2 separate regions of the Homo sapiens genome follow, and region 1 is linked to region 2. The links come from fine-mapping of genetic effects on gene expression. A gene starts in region 2. The other region holds a variant in brackets. All regions are shown on one strand. Distances are from middle to middle.

Evidence for each region.
Region 1: its variant is fine-mapped to the expression of NHS in whole blood (TOPMed, PIP 0.91).

The regions. Positions count from the first base shown.
Region 1 is chrX:17,523,231-17,532,492 of GRCh38, forward strand. All of the region lies in intron 1 of NHS (NHS actin remodeling regulator), which reads left to right. It overlaps LOC101928389 (a long non-coding RNA gene), which reads left to right and starts at 5,205. Exons shown (of 2, transcript NR_135631.1): 1 at 5,205-5,528. The variant CGCTGTGTGGCTTCAGG/C (reference allele first, on the strand shown) is at 5,445.
Region 2 is chrX:17,370,378-17,379,639 of GRCh38, forward strand. It overlaps NHS (NHS actin remodeling regulator), which reads left to right and starts at 4,823. Exons shown (of 9, transcript NM_001291867.2): 1 at 4,823-5,945. The coding sequence starts at 5,381.

The DNA.
Region 1 (9,262 bases), 150 kb after region 2:
AGGCTGAGTCTTAGAGCCTGGCAGGACTCAGGCCTGACAGAATGCAGGAATGCTGGAATGGAAACTGAGGTAGCAACACAGTCACATGATTGGGTGGACACAGCAGCAATTAGGAAACTCAGCAGCAGGTGCCACTTGAGAGGCAGAGACCCAGTCTTCCTGCCAGGGATGTCTTTCCAGGGCCCACCCCCCAGGCCTTGATCTCTGCTGCTGCCAAAAATGGCAGGGCTGACACAGCAGGATTGCTTATCTCTACTGAGCAGAGCAGATGAGGAAACCGAGGCATAGAGCCGCCATGAGACTCATCCCAAGGCTCCTGACAGTCCAGAGGCAGAGCCAGTAGTGGGGGCAGTCTCCCCAGATGAGCTGACCTCAATGGATCTCTACACAGAAGAGGGAAAACAGATAGGGCGGCATCCAGTAAATACCCCAAAAGCTCATCTTGGAACCTGTGAGTCCCTGCTTGTGTTTCTTGGCTTCCCAGGTCCCTCACACCTCAATAAAAGCCCAGTCTTGTCTTTCTCTCCCAACAGTGCCGGCAAAAGAAATAAGACCTCCAACCACCACAGTGGAAAACCTGCAGGAAGAAAATGTTCATAAAGAGTTGAACCATGGCCCGAAGTGGTTTTGGTTTTCTTTCAAGGCCTGCAGCATCCTGGAGTGCCAGGGGCCTGTGGTCACAAAAGCTTCATCTCAAAAGAAGCTAAGAGGGGGTCCATTCTGGGGAATACTCTGGACAGTGCTATGAAGGGCAGCTGGGAAGAGAGCTGGCTCTCTGCTGCATATTGACTACTCGGGGGTACAATTTTGTCTTGCCCTTACCCTTATCCACCCATAGCAAGCTCCGCATTTGGTGATGTTTGCTTGTTTCACTTTTTATTTTGAAATAATTAAAACTTACAGGACAGGTGCAAGAATAGTGTAAATAACTCTTGTATACCTTTATCTAGATTCACTAATTGTTCATATTTTGTTGCATTTATCCCTTCTCTCCCCCACACTAATTCATGTTCATATATATGTGAATTTTTTTGCTGAACCATTTAGGAGTAGGCAGCTGTCATCAAACTCCCTTTACCCCTTGCATTTCCCAAGAATGAGAATATTCTCTTGTATATGTACAGCTATCAAATTTAGAAAATATAATATTTATTTCATACTTTTATGTAACCTGTGTCCCAATAATGCCCTTTATCACAATTTTCTTAAGGTTCACAATCTAGTCCTGGATCCCACATTGCATTTAGTTGTCCTGTCTCTTTTGTCCCCGTTAATCAAGAACAGTTCATAACTCTTCCTTTGTCTTCAGTGGCCTTGACATTTTTGAAGAATACCAGCCAGTTGTTTTATAGAATGTTCCTTAATTTTGGTTTCTCTGATGTTTCTTCACATTTACATTTGGATTTAGGCATTTTTCAGTTGGAATGCTATATAGGCATGTAAGTGATTTGTTCTCTGGGGACCATATCAGGAGGCACAGATGTCCATTTGGCCCTTGTTGGTGAGGTCACATTTGATTAGTTAAGCTGGTGTCTGTGTAGCTGTTCTTTTTCCTTTTGTAATGAACAAATATAATTTGTTGGAAGATATTTTGACATTATGTAAATATCCCATTCCTCATCAAACTCTCTCCACCTAGCTTTAGCATTCATTGAGGATTCTTGCCTGGATAATGATTTACTCTAATGGTTTCATCCATCATCCCTTCTATATTTGTTAGTCCAAAATAGTCTTTGATTGGGTGGGAAGGCATACTAAGCCTGCCGATCTTAGTAGCTGAGCTCACAGGGAGGAAGGGCCTTGATTTCCTCCTTGGACTCTGACTGACAGCTCTTTTGAAGCAGTCCTGTTCTGTTGGGTGTATGTTTTGACACATGTAGTAACTCATTTTGGAAATACTTATTTTTTACTAGATAACTTTCAAATAAGTTTTTAAATACTTTACAAAAAAATGGTAGGATGTTGGTTGCATATGTTATCATTTATTTTTGTGGCATCTGCTGGAAAATTGCACCTGGTTCTTTTACACAGTGTTGATCAACAGAAACCTGATCATGATGATAGCAATAATAATATCTTCTCACCATCTGAACCCTGCTCCAGAGAAAGGGATGAAATTAGAGAGATTGTTTGAATTCTGAGAAGGATGGTTGGACTAAAAAGGAAAACCAGCTATTGGAAGCAGATGAATTAAGTAAAACATGAATTTCCAGGAATGTTTCAAAATACTTGTGTGGGAGTTCTTTTTGGAATGTTAAAGCAGTGAATGGCATTGCTTGGAATTTTGTTTTTTTCTTTATTGATTTTGGTTCAAAACGAATCCTTAATCAGTTTCTAGCCAGTTCATTTTTGTCTATTTTTTGCAGCAATTTACTGTTTTGTTTTTGTTTTCTTTTTTCTTTCTTTTCTTTTTTTTTTTTTTTTTTTTTACTACAGTGGAAGGGGTTTTTATGGGAGAAACCTCTGATTATTGTTTTAGTGGGCCTAGAATATTAAGTTCTTGGTTTTGATTTTTGTCTTTTTAAATAGCTCTTTATAGCCCATAGTAAGAACAAAGGACTAATGGGGGATGTTTGGGAGGTTTCTCAGCTCTTATATGTTGTTATAACACTGGTTGTTACAGTTGCCATTAAGGTTAATGTTTTCAGAACAGCACCAAAAGCTATAAGCGGACATGAAGGAAAAGCAGCTGTTTTTCATAAAACTTACAGATGAACCAATGCTAGTTACTCCTGTGATGAGTGATCTAGAGCAGCCTTTCCCTAGTGTGTGTGTTCCTTGGAATGTGCATGTGTGTATACACACAGAAGAGAGAAAAGGGAGAGTTAAGTTCATGGTCAAAGAAGTTTCAAAAACATTGCATATTGTAACTCCATATTGGAGAATCACAAGGTTAAAAGAGTATAGTTAATGCTTTGAATGTTACACCTTTGCTAGAAAACAAACTACCCCAAAATTTAGTGGCGCTGAACAACAAACATATATCTTAGTCTGTGGTTGAGCTCAGTGGTTGTTCCAGTCTGGGCTAGGCCAGGCCAGGTGGTTGTAGCTGGGCTAGCGCATGTGTCCACAATCAGTGATAGGTCAGCTGAGGCCTAGCTGATCTAGATTGGCCTCATCTGGGATGTTCCCCCTGGCAGTGTCCTCTTATCGTCTAGCAGGCCAGCCTGGGCTTGTTCATATGGTGATCACGGAATTCTGAGCATGCGAGCAGAAGTGCGCAAGGCCTTTCGAGATCCAGGCTTGGAACTCAGACAGTGCCACTTCTGAATTGCATTGGCCAAAGCAAGTCACAGAACCAAACCCAGATTCAAGGGTTTGAGAAATAGACTCCACCTCTCGATGGGAGGGCTTACAAGGTCTCATTGCAAATGGATGGGGAGATACCGAAAGGGGAATGATTGCAGCCATTTTGACAATCTAGCAGAGAGATCAACTAATACGTGACTGGCTATTATTTCTATGCGCATTTCTGGGTTTGGGAGAATTTGTAGGGGAGGAGGAAAAGAGATACAGATCATTTATAATTGCAGAAAGTAAAAATAAGACTTCAGTTGAGATTTAATGAGCTAATCTATTTCAAGTGCTTTGAACTCGCATGTAGTAAGAGCTCTATAAATGTTGCTGTTATTATTATCATGAATGCATATGTCACTTGAGGTCCTCAACCTCACTTAGAAGTGAAGCAGGAAGATTCATTTGACAACAAAATGAACAAAACTTCAGATACTTGTGCAAAACATATAATCAAGTGAAGGAATTTAAATAAAATACCCCCAGCAAAAATAGTCTGGAGCACAGAACAGACATTTTCCTCTGGGGGTTGAAGGTGGGAAGATGTGTCCAGTTTTGCCTTCTGTGACCAGTTCACCCTGTTGGGCTTGTTTCCAAGGTAAGGTCAGAGCTTGCCGGGTTCTTGCTAAACTGGAGTCTGTAATAAAGAGGGTACCCAGGTGTGAAGAGTTTTATGTTCTCAGGACTTGTTCTTTGTTTATTTAGTTAGCCTTTATTAAGTGCATTGGAGCCTTGGAGGGCTCTGCAGTGGCTTTTGTTGCATGATAAAGGTGGCACATAGCTTTTCTTTGGCTGACTTGGGCTCCCAAGTGAAAAAGGCAGAGAGGGCCCTGCCAGCTTCCCTGGCTCTGCCCCTTCAGGGCATTTCAGGGAGCAGTCCAGTGACTGACGCCAAATGCCCTTGAGCACTGTGCCAGCCCTCTTGACTGGAAGCTGGGGAAGGAAACTTTCTCAGGCCCTCTCTCTCTTTGCTTCTATTTCCCCTTTCATTTTGTGGTCTGAGCAGCCCCCGCCCCTCCTTGCGTAAACCCCTCTGCAGTTAGCATCAACAAATCCCAAGTTGTTTGTATGTGTGTCTAAAAGAAAAATTCTCTGAGGATTAGAAGCAGACACAATAGAGGGAGTGCTCCCTTTTGCTTTAATCACTTCAGGCTCCTACGTGTTGACAGGAAGTTTTGTTAGTATCCAAGTTTAAGGAAAGGAGCATTCAGGGGTGGCATTTTTTTTCCTGCGTTGAATTCTTAAAGTAAGTTTGATAAGATATCTGGTAAACTACAAGCCGCTCCCTTTTTAAATAGGCTTCACTGCCCCCTTGGCCTGCCTGTAAAAGCGCTGCTCCCTTCAAAGGGACCCATAATCACGCCGAGTCTGTGGGTTGCACGACTATACCCACTGTCTTATCTGCAAGTTGAGTTTGATCTTCCTGGCTGAAACCTGTGAGATGTTCCTTTATGTCTCCACATTCTTTTCTTCCCTTTCTGCTCCCAACCCCACCCCCAAATTAATTGGTGTCTGGTGACTTTTTCTACCGCTTCCTCTTGTTTTCTGTGGCTTTTGTCTAGGGCAGTGGGGGAGGGTGATTCTTCCCTCACCCCCAGGGGACATGTGGCAATGTCTGGAGACATTTTTGGTTGCCACAACTGGAGAAAAGGGGCATCTGGTGAGGAGAAGTGAAGGATGCTGCTAAACCTCCTACAATGCACAGTGCAGCCCCCACAGCAGAGAATGATCCAGCCTCAAATGTCACCAGTGCCACCACAAGGAGCCCCTGATCTAGCAGGTTGCTTTCTGGTAGGGTGCTCCTGCTTCTGATATGGCTCCTCCCTCTCTCTCTTCTTCCTCAAGAGGACTGTTCTTGTGTCTAGTATTGGTTACATCACCCCTGCCCTTAAATAACTAAACTCACAGAAGGAGAAAATTTTTCCTTAAGGATGCTACTGACTCTGGAATCCTTGAGTTACATGTGAATAACTGGGTCGTGCATGTCAGCATTAAGAAATAATCACAGAACTCCTGATTCTGGTTTGCTCTGGGTGGCAGCTGTGCTGGGTTTACCAATGGAGGAACTTCATGGCTGCTCATCTTTGACTCTTTTTCTGAGGAACCAAATCTCTCTGGGAGTGCTGGCTAACTCACCCCTTCTTCAAACA[CGCTGTGTGGCTTCAGG/C]ATATGGCTGCTGGCTTTAAAAAAGAAGGAAAAATAAATTAAGACACCCACACTGCAAGACAACCCCTGTGAGTATATGTTATACTGGGAATGCCCCATTTCTCAAATATTTATAAATATATGGTCTCTTGGAGTGTTCTAGGTCTGTCATTTGGGAAGGTTAGACAGCCCTGGGCCACTATCCTTTTTCGTAAGCACAGGGCACTTTCACAAATACCAGATTGACAGCTGGGTGATGCCAAGGGAATGGTGATGTGTTGCCCTGTGTATATCTGGGATGTGTTAGACATCCCTCCCTTCCTTCTTTTTCTTTGTTTTCCCTCCCTCCTTCCCTTCTTCCCTTCCTTCTTTCTTTTTTCTTCCTCCCTCCTTCCCTTCTTCCCCTCCTTTCTTTCCAAGCACATCAGTGAGAATGTAGCACAGCTTGGTTTTCTGAAGTCCGTCAACTACTGTGTACTGCTTGTCAAGAAGGGTGCTATATAAGCTGAAATGCTGCTCTAAATTTCACATTATCCCTTCCTGCTGCTCATTGAGTTATTTAATTAGAAGCTGCCATATTTTCTAGGGAAAACACTTTGAACAGAAGGCCTGATTTCACTGAGAATGGATGCCTTTATTATGTGTCAAGGAGCTAAAAATTGCTAGTAAGATGTCAGTGTGTATATGTATATGAAATACAGAAAAGTGCATGTACATATATGAAGAGCAATCAAAAGAGAAATGCGAAGGGGTTGGAAAATGAAGAGGTGTCAGATCCAGTCGATGATTTGGTTCCTGCTCAGGAGTGTGTAAGCTTCAGTTGGCTCCAGTTTGGCTAACACTGCAATGCCTTTAGTGTCACTGAAGCCGACAAAGAAAGCTGACGCGTTGTTTTTCTAGGGGGAAAAAAAATGCTCTCCTTCCACATTCCCAGTGCAGACAACAGCAGAAAACAGAAATGAGACCGTACTGCCCAGAGTCCACACAGACTCCAACTCAAAGTCTTTGAATTATGTATTCAATTCTTGCCACTTTGCACATTTTCCCTTAAAGAAAAGAGAAAAAAATCAGTTCATAGTAGCTCTTAAAAAGCATGGAGGGGCATTCAGGATTCAATTCATCCTGAGAGGCAGATTTTAAGTTTCATTCTTAGAAGGAGATTTCGTGTTTAGGGTATGACAGTGTGGAGTTCATAGGAAGGGATGTCAGCTAAAACCAACTGCATCCTGTCTTTTGAGTTTGTTTTACCTTTGGTGTCCCCTGTTGACATGTGCCTTTCACTTCGCTTGGAGACTCTCTGGATGTGCAGGCTGCTTCATGTCCTTTAGGCTCTTCTGTGGCAGCCAAGGGGGTTTCCTTTTTTCTTCCCTCTATTTCTGGGCCACAGAGAGGAAAGAACAAAGATGCTTTCCCTGCACTGACTCCAAGTTGAAGCTAGTCAAACTCCCCTCTGAAAGGGGTTAATCATTTTAAAATAGCTCGAGAATAACTTGAAAGTGACTTTCAGTGAACGTGTCCAGAGATCTCTGGATTTAAATCCCCTCCCCTCCTCTCCCTCTCCAGCCAGGTCACCGGATGGGAATGGCTTATTTCTATCTGCCATTAGGTTTTTCAGCCCTGCCGAGAGAGACGCCAGTGCTGGACTTTAATGTGGAGGAAATTCAGTTAAGGAGCATGACATTTCTCAGGTTTCTGGAGAGATGGATGTTTTGGCTTATGTTGAGTGCTACCGACCCCATTTGTCACCAGCAAGCAGGTGGATAGTCCCTTAACCTCTCAGAATGGGGTGAAGGGATGATTTGGACCCTTGCTACTCAAAGTGTGGTCCTTGGACTAGCAGTATCGTCTCCCCTGGGAGCTGGTTAGAGATGCAGAATCAGGGCTCCACTGCTGACCGACTGAATCTGAATTTGCTGTTTAACATGATCCCCAGGTGATTCAGACGCACATTAATGTTTCAGAAGCGCTGGTCCAGGGCAGTGGTTATCAAATTTGAGCATATATTGGAATTTGTTTCAACAATCCTATTAAAACACAGATTGCTCAGCCTTACTCTCAGAGTTTTGAATCTATCAGGTTTGGGTCAGGGCCAGAGAATCTGCATTTCATCCTTTTTTCTTTTTTTTTCAGACAAGGTCTCACTCTGCCGCCCAGGTTTGGGTACCGTGGCACAATCATAGCTCACTGCAGCCTCAAATTCCTAGGCTGGTCTTGAACTGCTGGCCTCAAGTGATTCCCCTGCCTCAACCTCCCAAAGTGCTGGAATTTCAGGCGGGAGCCACCCTGCCAGCCAAATCTGCATTTCAAACAGGTTCCCTGGTGATGCCCATGCTTCTGGTGAGGTGGAGGAGCACACATTGGGAATAGCTGCTCTCGAGGAACCCTGGCCCTTCTGGCAGCCTTTATTTCTCTCTCCATGGAAACCCTCGCACCAGCCAGGCTACCCTTGCCCCCTGCCTCATGCTTTTAATTCCCTTCCCCTTCCTCCTTTTGGAGAGGCCAGTACCTCCCCCTTATAAACCTCCCCCATTTCCTAGCTGTGAATCCAAACCCACACTTTCCTTTCCTGGCCACTCTGAGCTTTCTCATCCCCCTTCAGTGGCCCCCCAGTTCTTCCCCTGGTGCCCCAGCCTTCCCAGTTAGATTGCAAGCTGGAAGTGGGCCTCCCCCTCCCTCACTGTCCCCCTAATCCATCACCAGGATCATTCATTTCACTGCCCAGTGTCTCTCAGATCCCTCTTCTGCCCTCTACCCTAACTACCACCCCTGTGGTCTAAGCCCCATCTTCTCCTGCAGCTGTCTTTGGAGGTCTCCTTGTAGCCTCTCTTGCATTTGTCCAGTCTCTTTTCTACTATCAAGTCCAAGTGACCTATTCAAAGTTTCCCGCACCATTATTCCCCCCTCCTCCTCTGCCACTGCTTCAGCTCTTTCTGTGACACCATTGGTCGTAGCCTACAATCCTGAGCATGGCCCTGAAGGCCTCTAGGGTGGGCCCTGGCTATGCTTCTGTCTTTCTCTCTGCTGCCCTCCCTTGGCTTTGTGCTGCAGCCACGCTGGCCTATTTTCAGGCCCCCACAGGGCCTTTGCACAAGCTGAGGTGCTTTCTCCAGCCCCACCTCACCTGCTTAGTGCCTCAGCATCCTGCCAATGGCCCCTCAAGCTTCCCCAGGGAGGCTTTCTCTGACCTTCTCCAGCCAGTGAGATTCCTTTGTTGTTGACCCTCCTTCTTATCCTCATAGTGCTTTTTGCCCTATGCAGTTATATATCCAAAGTGTGACAATTGGATTAATGCGTGTCTCTCCTGCTAGACTGTAAGTTTCATGGAGTGAGGACCCATTCATTTGTGTTGATTCTTGTCTCCCCAGGAGCTGGTATCTAGAATGCACCCAACAAATATTTGTTGGTGAAGCCAGTGGGATCCTTTGCAGCTCCATGCAGTGGTTCACACCCCACATAGACTCCTAAAATATGACACTGGAAAATGAAAACTTTTTAAAATTGTTTTAAATATATAAGAATTCAGCTCTGAATGTCTAGATAATTGGTAGCATGAATTGGCCCTCGAGGTCAGGAAGACTTCTTTGCTCTGGTTTTAATTAGTGCAAAGCGGAAGCCATTTCTATGTAAATGAATCAATCCATCGAGGCACACTTCTTTAGCCCTGATTATATGCCAGGCACTGGACCGGAGCCCCAGGAAACAAAGATGAATGATATAGTCCCTGCCCTTGAAGGGAGGAAAAGCAGATGGCTGGTCCCTGGAGACCTTCCTAGCAGTAAAGAATTCAGTAACAGTATGGACGATGGCACCAGAAGTGTGCCTT
Region 2 (9,262 bases):
AACACCCTTTGAGAGCAATGTTTATGTCTTCTTTCCTTTTATATCTCTGGCAGCTCACAGAGGCCTAAGCACCCAATAAATGTTTGCACTCAGTAAATGGAAGCATCCGGTCAATGTTTGTTACATCACCAAAGGAACGAATAAGTGAATGAAACTCCATTGTTGTTTGCTATCACCATCTGCTTTAATTCTGTCAGTTATTTTGAGTTACGTATTTGCAGTTCTGACTAAATCCAGATTTGGCATGTTTAAAATTATATTCAGTTGTAAAATGTGAGGCTAGGATTTTTGAAGATTAGAAAGAAGTAAGAATTTCTCCCACAGGAAACAATGTGAGTAATCAACAGTTCTCTGCAAAGGAAGATAAAAAGGCTGGTTGGCATAGTCTTTGTATTCACAGTCTTTGGCATTTTGGGAAAACCATTTTAATAGCATTATTTTTTCTGCCCATGTTTTCCTATCAATAAAATGCAGAGAGAAACCCCTGTCCTTCACACTTGATAGACTAAATGAAGATTTTTAAGGAAGAAAAGCACAAGCTGAAACAAGGGAAAACCTTCAATGGTAGTATATAGTCTTTTTTCTCCCTCGAAACTATACATATGGTAGTTATCAATATATGTGTAAATATATTTATGTGTATGGTGGATTAATATTTTGATGTATTAATGAATATGTTTCTCTCCCAGTGTTTCATGGGAATACCTGTACACAAAGCCACATTCAAAGTTCCTGAACTGGAAGAACTTGGACTTTAGAGTTGCAAAAAGTAAGCTATGAAGGCTTTGGACATCATAAACCACACATATGGAAGAATGCATGCTTCCTCATTCAAGATGGCATACCACCATGGGCTGTGAACTTCCTCCCATGAGCCAGCAAAACTAAAGGAAAGAGGGATTTGGGGACTCTCAGAGCTCAGCAACTAACATTAAACTTTGCAGAAACTCTTGGAAAGCCTGACAATGGTGGCCTCCTGGTGTGGGAGAGAGAGGAGTGAGTAACATCTTTCTGTGACCCTTCAGTCGGCTATGTGTATGAGCTCTTTCCATATGTTTTAAGGCTCTCTGAAGTTTATCCTTTATTTTTCCCTTAAGGTGTTGTTCTGTACTGTAACTTTATTTGTAAGTGCAGTTTAAGTGTAGTATAGCCATGAGCTCGAAAAAGTTTTCTGCTTCATTGTGAACCACATGACTCTCCAACGATTTCCCAAGAATGACAACCTCACCCTCCTCCACTCCTCACCACCCAATTTCAAATCTGCTCTTCTTCCTTCATGAGATATTATAACATTGCATTTTATGTACAAACTATATTTATTTACTTTCAAATTGTAGCCCTTCACCTATGTAAACTTGCTATAGTTTTCTATCTGTGAAATGGTTTAAGTAACTTAAGTTGGGATGGAATGCTCATAATTTTTTCCAATAAAATTAATGCAAATATTTTTTATTTAACAGGTTTTTACTTAGTGGCAGGACTTTTTAGGAGTAGATTACATTGATTAAATGAGGAATAGGTTCAATTAGGTGGAGGAAAAGACACTTCAGTCACTATAATTCAATGATTATGCTAATGTGCCCCGTGTATCTCCTGGCATTTCTTAGCCAAAAGAAATATTTTCAAGTATAAATAATGGTAGGATATTCAAATCAGAACATTTTTAGCGAAGAGTGTTTTAGGAATCTCTGCTTTGCCGCTTGTGAGGTTCTATAGGAAGCCTGACTAGGGTTCCGTGGAGGCATGAGGACAGCCAGGTTGAGGACAGTGGCGCTTCACGGTGCTCTCAATGCCAATCTTCAAGTTCAGCAAAGCCCTTCTTCCTTCTGGGCTGGAGCAGGCAAGAATGTAACTGTGGGGCGTGGTGACACAGACAGGATCTTTCATTCATTTTACAATGGCATACAGTTTATACTGACTAAACATTTGAATTTATGGGCGAATTGTGCTGGCCTTTGAGCTGCATGAATGACTGCTGGGAATTAGGCGATGGGGCCATTTAAAAATGTTTCCTTTCCCTTCTATTTTGGCTACAAGTGCACGGTAAATAAACATGTGTACATGAATAGTGGGGAGGCGGTGTGATTGGGAGAGATCAACACACACATAACAATCTGGTGTAACAATCAGGTGTAACAACCTGGCTTTAGAAAGCAACCTTGACTTCATCAGAACTTTTTGTGGGAAAATTTGGAGTAAAATGTCACAATTCAGGATTTAAACAAGAAAGACACAGCTCCCACGTATGCTGAAAACTCATCAGCTTAAGACTATTCACATGTCCTGTCAGGATTACATGTGTTGCTACCCTTTTTAAAATTTCAGTATTTTAGTTCTAGAAAGCAGGAATAAAACCCAAAAATGTGTGTAGGGGTGTGTGTGTGGGGGTAATTCACATGGGAGGGACTTGAGTTGGGAAAAGGGTAGGATGGGGCCAGCAGGCTGTCTTGAAGCTGCCTTCCCAAAGCTAGCAGTTTTTTATTTAGATGGTGTCACTAATGTAAAACAATCGTTACATTTTCTAAAGATACCTTTATTCATATCTTACAGAGGACTGGGAAAACATCAACCAACCATATCAATGAATATGATCATTTGTATTAGGTTTGGTTTTGGTGACTTTGAAGGAGGGTGTCTTTCTCCCCAAATAAAACAAAAACAAAAACAAAAACAAAAACAAAAACAAAAACGTAATGTGCTCTTGGAAAGGTCACTGGGGACCACCACCAAAGGAAGGGGAGGGGACAGCGAGAATGAAGGAGATCAAAAGCCAAAATTAAAGGTTTTTAAAATTTTAACCAAAGGGCTTTATTAGCACACAAGTCAGAGTCAAGGAGATTACAAAGAGGGCACTCCTTTTTGCATCCTTGAACTGTGCTTTGAATCATTTTGAAATCTCGGCTTGAATCTGAGCTGATCACTTGGGGGCAGACACTAAGGTAGCTGGCCTGTTTTTTAGCTTAATTACCCCCTTGAACCCTTTCTCTCCTGGGCCTTTGCCCTTCCTTTCTGATCACTTATTTTGGGAGCCCTGGAAGGAACTTGCCAATAATCTGAAACTCCCTTTAGGAGTGAGAGTCCCACACCACTTATTCATTGCCCCTGTCAATGCTCAGATGGGCCCGCTCCACTGGCACCCTTGCTATTAATAGGACAGTGCTAGGTAAGGGAGAGTGAGAGGCAGGGCAGCCTGTTGCCACAAGGCTTGCTAACCAGATGCCTTTAATATCCCTCATTGTTCTCCATGCTTCCATGTGTTTAGGGAGAAGTGTCTGGCTTGCCTACCCAGCAGAACTCATGTTCAGAATTTTGAACGTATTAAAAAGTCAAGCTCAATTTAAAAACAGCTAGCTCAACGCTTTTCAGATTTGTGAGATAAAAAACAAACCTTAAAAGACCTTGTTCCAAAATATTCTTTTCTTTCATTTTTTATTTGGAAACAAAACCAAATTTAAAGTTGCAAGAAATGTACAATGAACCCTGATATGCCCTTAACCTAGACTATTTTGAACATTTTGCCATATTTTGTTTTTTTCTCCCTTCATACATACACATCTTTATTATCATCATTCTTCTTCTTGTTGTTACTGAAACATTTATGTGTACTTTGCAGACATCATGGCCCTTTACCCCCAAAGCCTCAGCCTGGATCTTTTATGAACAAGGATATGTCCTTGCCGAAAATTTTGGTTTTTTTTTGTTTTTTTTTTTTTGTTTTGTAGAATAAGACAAGGGTCTGTTGAAGCCTTTAAAACCAAAGCGTGGGCCAGTCCAAAGTGCTGACTGTTGGAGCCTCCTCCCTCTCCCGCCTTTAGAGGGAGGAGAGGAGACACCACCGCAGGTCTGGAGGACTTTATTGTTGCCATAAAACATATTTTTTCCATGTTCTCTTTAGAAACACGAAAAGAGGCTGCATTCCCAAGATCTGGCTTGTGGCTTTAAAATAAAAAATATTTTTACAGTATACTTTTTGGAGGCATGAAAGCACGTGTTTTATTAACATTTCCCAAACTCTTTTTACTGACGGCATACAGCCTGCAGCCTGCTGCAATCGAAAATGCATGCCTTTTTAGAAATTATACCTTTCAGTTAACTGAAGGGGAAAACTTTCCCTTCTTCTGTAAATCATCATCTCTCTGATGGAGAACTTTAAAAATCCTGTGTATGATCAGCACAGTAGGGTGACGAGGAGGTAATGCCGTTTATCTCACCCAACGTGCAATGAGTTTCGTAAGCAGTTTTCTGGGGATTTTGCTCATTGGTGGTTTGGGTCTCATTCACGATATTCTATAGAGCCCGTGCCCAAAACAGGGGGCCACGTGATGCCTGGGAAGGGGTATAAACAGCACTCTGGCTGCTCTGGCCACATGGAGATGCGCCTACGCCCTTTGCCCTCCCCAGTTGTCTCCTTGCGTTCATAGAGCCCGGGGATCTCCAAGGAGCAGCCCAGTTTTCCCTGTAAGAACCCAAAGGTCTTGTACAGAGCTGGAATTCGGCGAAAAACTTGCTCCAACACGCCAAATCTGCCGCATCCTCAATACCCCACCCTCTTCCCTCTGCGCTTACTGCCCACACCCCTACTCCCAACTTGAGGACTCCCCGCCCCCACCACGCTGACAGTCTCAATTCCAACCCCTTGGATGTGAGGAAGTGTCTTTGCGCCTGAACGCGCCCAGCACGGCGAGGCCACCAGTGACTCCCAGCGGCCGCACAGGGCGCTGCGCCCCCCTCGCCCCGGCCTCCCCCGCCCTGCGTCCGCCCCGTCACCCCCGCGCGGCCTCCTGCGCCCGGGCTGGAGGCAGATTCCTCTCTCCGGGTTTTCAGAGCGCCTTTCCGAAACCTCCTCCCCGCCCAGCCAGGGAGAGAGATCCCGGGCGCAATCGCTCCCCGGAGCGGCCGAGGGGCGCGCGGGGAGAGGCCTGCGCCGGGGTACTTTCAAACTGAGGCGCGCGCACACACTCACACCCACCCACCCACTCACCCACACACACACAGACACACGCACGCCCATTTATATAGGCGGCGGCGACGGCAGTGGCCGGGGTGGCGACGGCGAGCACAGAAACGATGGAGTTGAGCCAGTCGACCCTGGTTGGAAGCAAGTGAGAAGAGACCAGGCGCACCCCTAAATTTCTGTGCGGAGCGCTTGTCATCCTCCCCAGGGAACGGTGCACCCAAAGGAGGACTGGCTGGACTGATTTGCTAGGGAGAGGGCGGGGAAGAGGAGGCAAGGTGAGCAGAGAAGCCCCCTGCGTATCCGGACTGCCAGATCGCGCTTTTGCCGGACTCCTGCCCCCTCCCTGCTCAGGTGGGCGCGCCCGGTCTCCAGCTCACAGGGGCGCTTGGAGGAGACCAGAAAGTCGCCGCCTGGCTGCGCGGGATGCCTTTCGCCAAGCGGATCGTGGAGCCGCAATGGCTGTGCAGGCAGCGGCGCCCTGCGCCCGGCCCAGCAGTGGACGCGAGCGGAGGCAGCGCTGAGCCGCCGCCGCCCTTGCAGCCGCCGGGCCGGAGGGACCTGGACGAGGTCGAGGCGCCAGGGCCAGAGGAGCCAGCCCGCGCCGTCCCTGCACCTTCAGGGCTGCCACCGCCGCCGCCGCCACTGCCCGCGCCGGCCGACCAGACTCAGCCGCCGCACGGAGAGGCGTCCGTGGCTGGCGAGGAGAGCACGGCGGGGATCCCGGAGGCGGCGCCCGCAGCCGGCGAGGCGTCCTCGGCGGCGGCGGCGGCGGCCGTGCTGCTCATGCTGGACCTATGCGCGGTCAGCAACGCCGCTCTGGCCCGTGTCCTCCGGCAGCTCTCGGACGTGGCCCGGCACGCTTGCAGCCTCTTCCAGGAGCTCGAGAGCGACATCCAGCTCACCCACCGCCGCGTCTGGGCGCTGCAGGGCAAGCTCGGCGGCGTGCAGCGCGTCCTCAGCACGCTTGACCCTAAGCAGGAGGCAGTGCGTGAGTACCCGCGCCGTCCGCCCGCCAGGCTATGGGTTTCTGCGCCGCACCCTCGCGCCCTCCCCAGCAGCGGCAATCCCAGCCCCGCGGCGCCGCTCCGGTTGCAGCTTGCACCTTACTACTCTCGCCTTCCCACCCTTCCCATCCCCTGGGACCCACCCCAATCCTCCTGGGGCTGAGTGGCTGGGCTGGACCCCGATTCAGTGATGCAGACGTGGACGGTGGAAAGTTAAAAGGGCGACCTCTGAAGTCGCAGGCAGCGTGGGCTGAGAAGGAGCAGAAAGGGAGCGTTTATGGGGAGCACAGGAGGCAGAGAGGGTCTGTCCTTCACCACCGGGGCTCGCCTTTCACGTCCTTCACGGGGCGTAGGGAGGAGGGTTGCAACTCCTGTGGTTTCCAGAAGCCCAGCCCTGAGCCCTGTAGCCCACACCATGCATGTTCAGGGTTGGGGGTTCCAGGAGTAGTGAGTGTTCTTTTGAGACTGCTGCAGCACCGCGGCTGTTTCGTCACTCGCTGTGACCTCAGGTGCTGCCCCGAGCTCCGAACTTGTGCCTTGCCCTCGTGTGCGACGTAGCGTGGCGCTGCTCGCCTCCTAGACTGAACTTCGTAGTGCTTCTGCCGAAAACCCTTGTGGCCCGGAGGGGCCGCGGGGAGGGTCAGGGAGAGATGAGGGTGGGAGTGTCAGGGGCCCCGGGGAGATGGAGGAGACCCCTGGGCATCTTTTCTGCTCTGAACAGCCCAGGGTTCCTACTAAATGGCTCTGTGCCATCTGCCCGCAGAGGATCCCACAGACTATCTTCCTCCTCCCCGGTGCACTGTCGCCCAAATTTACTGGCACGTGGACTTAGGTATGAACTAGTCTGCTAGGCGGGCTGCAGGGAAACGACGAGGAAGGAAGTCTGGGAGACCCCTGGGCGTCTTTGCTGTCCGTTGACTTCGCTTTTACGACACCCAAGGGCTCCCAATAAATAGTCATTCTATGTCATCTCCCTTCCAAGGGCGGTCCCCTTGGCTCCGGATCGTCCAAATCTGGCGACGGCAGAATCATTTAGGAACGACCCAGGAGGTAGACAGGGGCGCTGGGTTGGCGCGACGGTCCTTTGGCGCCTAGTCAGGCTGCGACGCTCGCGGCGAAGGTGATGTCAGCGGCTCTGACTTACGTAAGAAGCTTCCTAGGTTGCTGCCGCAGCTGCGCCGGTGCGCAGTGGCCTAGGAGCGCGCGGGGCGGAGGCGCTTTGGAGGCATCCTTCCCTGGGGATTTCCGGGCACCTCTGCCCCACAGCCCAGCTCAGCCTCCCAGCGGTCCCTGCCCGCCCGCGTGTTCTCTCCCTCTTCCCCTCCTCCTCCGAAAAACCCTTTGAACCCCGTCCCGGGAATTCACTGCTTTTCTGCAATAACAATAGTAATAAGCGTAATGAATAAATGATGTGCTCGATCGGTTTTCGCAGCTATAAAAGACCCGGAGTTGGGTTAATGACTGGTTGTTTAAAAGGGCAATTCCGGGGATGAGTTCTGGAAAGAATTAGGACTGCCGTAGGCCAAGTCGTATTTTACTTTTGGGACTTGAAATGAGCGCTTTAATCCTGCCTCCTTTTTACCCCAAACCACACAGCAGGGACAGGCCCTTCACTTTCAACAGCGCAGGTATCTGGGGAGTGCGGTTGTGGGAGTGGTGATTTCACTTCAAAAGAACTGGAGGGAAGTTTTGCAGACTGTTGAGTGGTGCATACATTTCCCGTGTGTGTGTGTGTGTGTGTGTGTGTGAGACACACCTCTCCTTAAGTTAGATTTCACGCGAATGAAACTCACTGCCAGAGCAGAATGTGCCCACTTCTTTCTCTCTTTAGATGCAGCAGTGGGCAGTTATGTACCTGGAACGTGTCAGAGTTCTTTCAAGTCCTTTTAACTGTTTGGGGTACAAACTAATAGTTAGTAGAGATAAGAGAGGATCTTGAGTGTGTGCATATAGTTGGTGAATATATACTCTATACATATTTGTACATGAATAATAAAGATGGGGCTGATTTCTACCTGGGATAGATTTAAAATCTCATATTATTTTAAATTTTATTTTCTAAAATGCTATCTCCACACTTTATGTCCAGATCTCTCTCTTCTCTTGTTCATTTAAATTTGGGATGGCATTGTTTTTGTTTGATGTCATAAAAGGCATTACCTTTGGGAGAAAAAACACACTATTATGTGTCTTGGTTTAGGTTTCCTAGAATGCAGAGCCTGAGACAAGGATTTCGATGCAATTAACTTATTTGGGAAGGGTTCCCTGGAAGCACAGAGAGGGGGTAGGGAAGTGAGACAGGAAAGGGAGGAAAGAGGAAAGCCAGTACACCATGTAAGCTGGTTAGCCCTGTGGGCAACTGGGGTTCAATCCAGCTGGCGACCCTCTGAGCACACACCTCAAATGTGTTCCACTAATGATTAAAGAAGCTGGAGTATTTATGCACCAGCTTCTTCTTCCCACAGATGGAAGGTAGCACCTGGAGCATGAACTCCATGGCTTCTGGGTCTTGCCCCACATGTAGTCCCAGCATGCACCCAGGGCCAGGTAGAGAGATGCAAAAAGCCTATGATGTGCACAGGAATGTTGACAGAGGTCCTCTGGGGAGGGCAAAGTAGCTGTGGGTCGGTCACTAGCGGCATCAGCTGCATTATGCATCTATCTCCCTTTAGTATTGCTCAGGCCTAGGGGAGTTTGAAAGGGAGAGGAAGCCTAAAAGTAAAACTTACTCTTTTTTCTCTTCCTTTGAGAGTGCCTTCACACCACCTGTATATCCTTGTCACCTGATCCTCATTCCCCTGCGTAATCTGCTTGCTATTTCATCCTTGGACAGCTGCTTCCTGTTGCCCTGAGACAGGCTGGGGGGCTTCTTGCAGGGGCAACATGATCTGATGTACACTTTGGAAGAGTCACTCTGGAAGCAAGTCTGGTGGCTAGTAAACCAGTTAGACACTGTGACTGGTGATGGTGGCTAGGACTAGGGAGGTAGCTGTAGAGACGGTGAGAAGTGGTTAGATTCTGAATGCATTTTGGAAATAGGATTGCCAAGACTTAACTGATTTGATTGGGTACAGGTTGTGGAAAAAAAAAATAATTTAGGATGACTCCTAGTTTGTTGTTTTTGCTTGAAAAGCTTAAATAACTTGTAGACTGTGGCTGGGCACGGTGGCTCACGCCTGTAATCCCAGCACTTTGGGAGGCCGAGGCGGGCAGATCGCCTGAGGTCAGGAGTTCGAGACCAGCCTGGCCAACATGGTGAAACCCCGTCTCTACTAAAAATACAAAAATTAGCCAGGCGTGG